Linked DNA regions of Homo sapiens: all the other regions are linked to region 3. Evidence: fine-mapped expression QTL. A gene starts in region 3. Each other region holds a variant in brackets. All regions are shown on one strand. Distances are between the middles of the regions.

Region 1 (2,808 bases), 53 kb after region 3:
AAGGTCAAGGAAAGCTTCCTGCAGTGACGCATAATAGGAGACCTGAAGGGCTTGTAAGAAGTAAACAGGCAAAGATAGAAGAGGATTGGGGTGGAGAATATGATTCAAGCAGAGGGAGTGTCATGTGCAAACCCCAAAAGTAAGAAGGAGTATAGCAAGATGGAAAATGGAAAAGAATTTAATCTAAAGTGATAGATTTTGAGGTATGAGTGGTGATAGATAAATCTAGAGAGGTAAATTGAGACCTAATTAATCACAGAGTTTTGAGGCCAGTGACAAGGCAGTACAGAGTTTAAGCAGGGAAATGGCATGATCAGGTCTGGAGCAATTACAGTGATCCAGATAGGCTATGATAAAGATTTTTTTTTTTTTTTTTGAGATGGAGTCTTGCTCTGTTGCCAGGCTGGAGTGCAGTGGCACGGTCTCGGCTCACTGCAACCTCCGCCTCCTGGGTTCAAGCGATTCTCCTGCCTCAGCCTCCCAAGTAGCTGGGATTACAGGCAGGTGCCACCACACCCGGCTAATTTTTGTATTTTTAGTAGAGATGGGGTTTCACCATGTTAGCCAGGCTGGTCTTGAACTCCTGACCTCGTGATCTGCCCACCTCGGCCTCCCAAAGTGATGGGATTACAGGCGTGAGCCACCGCGCCCGGCCAAGCTATGATAAAGATTTTAAGCACTAGTTGTAGTGGCCTTAGATGATGGTTACATAGAGTTATTGAAGGGTATAGAAAGAGGTTGGAGGCAGAATTCACAATAATTACTATTCATTATTGAATTACAAATTCTTAGAGGAATTTCAGATTATTATTTTACCCCCATGTATGTAGCACAGAATAAATATTCAACAAATACGTGTCAAATTAATTAAGAAATAAAACAAATTCAACCAAATTTATTTTTCTTCTTTTATTTTATTTTATTTTATTATTATTATACTTTAAGTTTTAGGGTACATGTGCACAATGTGCAGGTTAGTTACATATGTATACATGTGCCATGCTGGTGTGCTGCACCCATTAACTCGTCATTTAGCATTAGGTATATCTCCTAATGCTATCCCTCCCCCCT[C/A]CCCCCACCCCACAACAGTCCCCAGAGTGTGATGTTCCCCTTCCTGTGTCCATGTGTTCTCATTGTTCAATTTCCACCTATGAGTGAGAACATGCGGTGTTTGGTTTTTTGTCCTTGCGACAGTTTACTGAGAGTGATGATTTCCAATTTCATCCATGTCCCTACAAAGGACATGAACTCATCCTTTTTTATGGCTGCATAGTATTCCATGGTGTATATGTGCCACATTTTCTTAATCCAGTGTATCATTGTTGGACATTTGGGTTGGTTCCAAGTCTTTGCTATTGTGAATAGTGCCGCAGTATACATACGTGTGCATGTGTCTTTATAGCAGCATGATTTATAATCCTTTGGGTATATACCCAGTAATGGGATGGCTGGGTCAAATGGTATTTCTAGTTCTAGATCCCTGAGGAATCACCACACTGACTTCCACAATGGTTGAACTAGTTTACAGTCCCACCAACAGTGTAAAAGTGTCCCTATTTCTCCACATCCTCTCCAGCACCTGTTGTTTCCTGACTTTTTAATGATTGCCATTCTAACTGGTATGAGATGGTATCTCATTGTGGTTTTGATTTGCATTTCTCTGATGGCCAGTGATGGTGAGCATTTTTTTATGTGTTTTTTGACTGCATAAATGTCTTCTTTTGAGAAGTATCTGTTCGTGTCCTTCTCCCACTTGTTGATGGGGTTGTTTGTTTTTTTCTTGTAAATTTGTTTGAGTTCATTGTAGATTCTGGATATTAGCCCTTTGTCAGATGAGTAGGTTGCAAAAATTTTCTCCCATTCTGTAGGTTGCCTGTTCACTCTGATGGTAGTTTCTTTTGCTGTGCAGAAGCTCTTTAATTTAATTAGATCCCATTTGTCAATTTTGGCTTTTGTTGCCATTGCTTTTGGTGTTTTAGACATGAAGTCCTTGCCCATGCCTGTGTCCTGAATGGTAATGCCTAGGTTTTCTTCTAGGGTTTTTATGGTTTTAGGTCTAACATTTAAGTCTTTAATCCATCTTGAATTAATTTTTGTATAAAGTGTAAGGAAGGGATCATTTCAGCTTTCTACATAAGGCTAGCCAGTTTTCTCAGCACCATTTATTAAATAGGGAATGCTTTCCCCATTGCTTCTTTTTCTCAGGTTTGTCAAAGATCAGATAGCTGTAGATACGTGGTGTTATTTCTGAGGGCTCTGTTCTGTTCCATTGATCTATATTTCTGTTTTGGTACCAGTACCATGCTGTTTTGGTTACTGTAGCCTTGTAGTATAGTTTGAAGTCAGGTAATGTGATGCCTCCAGCTTTGTTCTTTTGGCTTAGGATTGACTTGGTGATGCGGGCTCTTTTTTGGTTCCATATGAACTTTAAAGTAGTTTTTTCCAATTCTGTGAAGAAAGTCATTGGTAGCTTGATGGGGATGGCATTGAATCTATAAATTACCTTGGACAGTATGGCCATTTTTATGATATTGATTCTTCCTACCCATGAGCATGGAATGTTCTTCCATTTGTTTGTATCCTCTTTTATTTCATTGAGCAGTGGTTTGTAGTTCTCCTTGAAGAGGTCCTTCATGTCCCTTGTAAGTTGGATTCCTAGGTATTTTATTCTCTTTGAAGCAATTGTGAATGGGACTTCACTCATGATTTGGCTCTCTGTTTATCTGTTATTGGTGTATAAGAATGCTTGTGATTTTTGCACATTGATTGTGTATCCTGAGACTTTGCTGAAGTTGCTTATCAGCTTAA
Region 2 (2,500 bases), 87 kb after region 3:
TCAGAATCAAGCCTTTCATCAATTCTGTCAGTTTCACCCAGGCGTGGTGGCTCACACCTGTAATCCCAACACTTTGGGAGACCAAAGCGGGTGAATCACCTGAGGTCAGGAGTTCGAAACCAGCCTGGACAACACGGTGAAACTTCATCTCTACTAAAAATATAAAAATGAGCTGGGTGTAGTGGTGTGCACCTGTAATCCCAGCTACTCAGGAGGTTGAGGCAGGAGAATCACTTGAACCTGGGAGGCGGAGGTTGCAGTGAGCTGTGAGCCAAGATCGTACCACTGCACTCCAGCGTGGGTGACAGAGCAAGACTCCATCTCAAAAAATAAATAAATAAAATAAAAAACCTGTCAGTTTAAATTTATAAGCTTATAGTGTAATGAATCTCATATTGTCTTATAGATAAAAATTACATGTTACTAGCATTTACTTACATATTTTGAAACAGTAATTGGTACTTTATTAACTTACAACAAGATTTTCCCTCATAAATTTAAGCTTAAATGTGATGATTTATACTAGAACTGAAGTTACTACTGTTTAATATCACATATGAAAGGAAATTAGATTATAGAAAAACAGATATAGATGATGATAGGATTATAATTCCATTTCTAGATGAGGAATTTCATATCATTGATTTTGTACATTCTGTTAGAGGAAGCACCAGGCCAACTAAATTGGTGACTTTTCAGTAGCTGTGCTGAAAGTGATTTTAGAAATGATGTTGTTCAGGAGGAAAATCCAAATAAAGGGAATCATGTGAAATTTACTACATGAAAAAGTTTCTTTGTTAATTTTAATAATCTGTCAGATTTTTTATGACCTAAAACTATTCTATGGCATACAGTAATGGTTTATAATCTAGGTGTGAAGCCCTGCTAGATATCCTAAAGCAAAACAACAAGGTATGCTGATGGACAGTTCCTGGCTCTTTTCACAGCTACTACTTAAAGTCTGAGATTGTTCATATAAAAAATAGTAACTAAGTGGCATTTACTACATTTAAGTCCTGCACTAAAGAACCATGCATACTATCGTTTTATAGCTGAAACTGAGGCTCAAAGAGGGAAAGTGATTTGCTTAAGGTCACCTGACATGCAAATAGCAAAGGTAGGTCCCAAACTCTGATCTTCTGGGGTACTCATTCCATCAGAGGTACTTGGGCCTCTCTTTGTCTATAATGCTAAGTACTGTCTTGCACCACTGATAACATTATACTTC[G/C]CTTGTGGTTAATTTGTTTCCTAATCTTTAAGTGTTGTTAATGTGTACATATTTATTAGACTTCTCAACAGAGGATATGTTAAACCACAACATTGGTATTATACCAACAAAATTCAGACTGTGGTAAACTCTGCAGACACGACCAGTTTCTTCAATAAAGAATTTCAAGAAAAAAAAAAGAAGGATTGGGTACCTCCATTAGTCCGTTTTCATACTACTATAAAGAACTGCCCAAGACTGGGTAATTTCAAAAGGAAAGAGGTTTAATTGACTCATAGTTCAGCATGGCTAGGGAGGCCTCAGGAAACTTATGGTCATGGCAGAAGGCAAAGGGGAAGCAAGGCACCTTCCTCACAAGGCAGCAAGAAGGAGAAGAGTGAGTGAGTAAAGGGGGAAGAGCGCTTAATAAAACCGTCAGATCTCCTGAGAACTCACTGACTATCAGGAGAATAGCATGGAGGAAACCACCCCCATGATTCAATTACCTCCATCTGGTCCCTTCCTTGACACTTGGGGGTTGTGGGGATTACAATTCAAAATGAGATTTTGGTGGGGGCACAAAGCCTAACCATATACATTAAAAAAGACAAGAGACATACCAACCATTGTATTTTGGAACTTGTTTGGATCCTGATTTGAAAAAACCGACTGCAAACAAATTATTAGACAATCAGAGAAATTTGAACAGTATATATTTAATGGGATTAAGAAATTTTTGTTAATTATTAAGTGTAATAATGGGATTGTGGTTAAATACTTAATATTTTAAGATTCTTTAAGAAGTCGTTATCTTTTTTTTTTTTTTTTTTTTTGAGACTGAGTCTTTCTCTGTGGCCCAGGCTGGAGCGCTGTGGCATGATACCGGCTCACTGCAACCTCTGCCTCATGATTTCAAGCGATTCTCGTGCCTCAGCCTTCTCGTGCTTCAGCCTCCCAAGTAGCTGGGATTTCTGGCTTGCGCTACCACGTCTGGCTAATTTTTGTATTTTTAGTAGAGACGGAGTTCTGCTATGTTGGCCAGGTTGGTCTCGAACTCCTGACTCAAGTGATCCGCCCACCTCAGCCTCCCAAAGTGCTGGGATTACAGATGTGAGCCACTACCACACCTGGCCAAAAAGTCTTCATCTTTTAGAAGTACGTATCCAAAAAGATGAATTGATGTGATGTTGGGGATTTCTTTAAAAATAACACAACAGATGAAGATGATTGGTCTTAAGTTGATAATCGTTGAAGCTGGGGTCTGGGTAACTGGGGGTTCATTATATCATTCTG
Region 3 (2,500 bases):
AAAAAGTATATACTTTTCATTTTATATCCCATCTTAGATATAGTTTGCCATCTCTCATATCTGTGGCCAAATGTCATTTGAATCGGACTAAGTAATTGCAAAAAGTAAAATAATGACTTATTTTCTTAATTCATTAAAAATAAGTACATTTTTAATTCTCTAATTTAAAGTAAATATTTTAATAGAAGATTTAAAAGGAGCCACTGACCAGCCTGGGTGCTTACTACAAAAGAGTTGAAAGTAATTCACACAGTGTATCAACAGTAGCTGTCTCCCACACACACAGGCACACTCACTCTCTCCCCCATCTGAACTTTTCCTCCCTAAAACATGAGGTGGGAGAAGGGGAATGACCATGACACAGGCCTCACTACCCCCACCCCACGAGTAGACACACATCTCCCTCCTCATCCTGCTGAAAAGAAATGTGGAGGCTGTGGACCAAGAGACCCGATGCTTCTCAGTGTCACTTCCCCTGCATGTGGGATAAACAAACAAACCGGCACCATGAGAGTAACCATCAGAGTGATTTTGCTAACCTTTGACTAATGTCTTGGTTAAGTTTTGAGCTGAGTCAAAGCTCTAAGAAACAGGTAAATCCCTGTGTCCCCCCACCCAACCCCTTAAACACTCCAACGGGAAGTTTATCCCTGAGCTGAACGCTGGCCCCCGTCGCCTCCTCCCAGCCTATCCATGCCTCCTTCCTGCCTGAAGCCCCTACTCCAAAGGTAATTGTCTGGACACAGTCAAGGAGCACCGTGGGCGACACTCCCCACCTCCCAATCTCTCCTAAGGAAGCCCCCGCCGGCCCAGTTGGCCCACCTCCCTCGCCGCCCCAGTCGCGCCGCACCACTCCGGCAACTTTTGCACCCAGCCCGACCCGCCACCCGCGGCCCCCGCTGCCCCCTAGCCCTCCGCGCCCTCAGCCTCCGACCGCGGCCCCCTCCTGCCCACGCCTCCGGGCCACCCGCCATGGTCCTCGCCCACCCCTCCCCCGACACCCGCGCCTGCGGCGCCGCCCCCGCCGCACCCCACCCCACCCGCCCGGGACCCCAGCCCCACCCGGGAGGGAGGGCGCCGCGGCCGCGCCGAGGCAGCCGCCGGGCCGGGGCTGGCAGCGGAGCACCTACGCGCAGGGGGCTTTACCTCAAAGGCGCGGCCGCGAGCAGAGGGGTCGGTCCCGGGCGCGGGCGGCGCCCCCAGTCCGTCAGCGCCGGCGGGGGCAGCGGCGGCGGCACATCACACCCGCCGGCGGCCGGAGGAGGAAAGCGAGCCACGCAGGGAGCGAGCGAGCGAGCGAGCGAGGTAGGGGGGAAGGAGCGAGAGAGAGAGGTAACGCAGCGCTGCTCGGATTCGGTCCCTGCACTGCCGCTGGTGCCTCCTACCGCCGCCGCTGGCCGGAGAGTCGCCGCCCGAGCCTCTGCTGTCGCCACCGATGCAGCCCGGAATGAATGCACAGCAGCGCCTCGCTTATCCGGAGGTCAAACATCCTTCTGCCTCGGGCATCCGGATCGACGCCGGACCCGGAAGTGAACACATGGAAAAAAAATTAAAAAGGAAAGCGTCTGTTTAGCGGCGGCGGCCCCCAAGCTGCCCGCATCAGCGAAAACAGCCGAGTAGAGCCGAAGATTGCACCAACCTTCTTGGATTGGTCGGATCGCCGACCGGAAAGGAGACGGCGCGGTCATTGGCTGGCAAGGTGTATAAAGCCTAAGCCGCGCCCTATCCCCGTCTTTCTAGAGCCGTGCGTGAGGGAAAGTGGGGAGAGGCTGTGGATACGAGTGTTTCTCTGGATGAAGCAGTGGGCGGAGAAGCATAGCAAAGTCTACGCAGAGAACTGGAAGAGAACACCACCATGCTTTAGGAGAGCTACTAAGAACTGAGTGAGCAAAGAGCCTTAAGGGTACCATTGTGCCAAGTCAGGGTGCTGAGGCTTTCCCTGTTGTGCTCAGCCCGCCAGGTTCCAAAAAAATCTTAGGGCCCGGCCTAGGAGTATGACATCACTGGGTTGACATTTTTCCCCGCTTGTTTGTAACCCCAGTGCCATATCAGGGCTCCAACTGCTTAGAAATGTGAATTATGGCTCACATTTGCGTCTCATTTGCTGTTTGTAAGCTGAGGTAATCCTCTGAACTATATAGTGTGGCATTACCTGTTTTTCAAATTCACCTCCCAAAGTTCTGAGAAGCCAAACATCACCCAAGTTATCAAGTTGCAGCGCACAAACTGAAATCGGTGTTTCTGACTCACACTTAAGTCCACTCTGCCTACATAGAAAGACTGCATTCCTTTCATTTTCCCTCTTGCAGTTGCTTCCCTGGGATGGAGATAAGTCATTTTGGTAGACTTCTATGGAAATTGATCCACCATGAAGGCATGGAAACTATAATTTTTTAAAATTGTGATTCTTATGTCTCAAGTCCTTTCAAAAGTTAGGCATTAAGGTGTGCAGGAAGAAGAATCAGCCTGGTGCCATGTTTTTTAAATGTTCATTTTATCA

Evidence for each region.
Region 1: its variant is fine-mapped to the expression of CSNK1G3 in whole blood (INTERVAL, PIP 0.95).
Region 2: its variant is fine-mapped to the expression of CSNK1G3 in whole blood (INTERVAL, PIP 0.99).

What each region holds. Positions count from the first base shown.
Region 1 is chr5:123,457,633-123,460,440 of GRCh38, reverse strand. No RefSeq gene overlaps it. Among named protein-coding and RNA genes, the nearest start is that of CEP120, 36 kb to the right of the region's middle. The variant C/A (reference allele first, on the strand shown) is at 1,072.
Region 2 is chr5:123,424,697-123,427,196 of GRCh38, reverse strand. No RefSeq gene overlaps it. Among named protein-coding and RNA genes, the nearest start is that of CEP120, 2.5 kb to the right of the region's middle. The variant G/C (reference allele first, on the strand shown) is at 1,229.
Region 3 is chr5:123,511,217-123,513,716 of GRCh38, reverse strand. CSNK1G3 (casein kinase 1 gamma 3) reads right to left here and starts at 1,540. Exons shown (of 14, transcript NM_001364140.2): 1 at 1,147-1,540. RefSeq lists enhancers at 219-368, 1,399-1,608, 1,769-1,828 and silencers at 889-958, 1,129-1,218.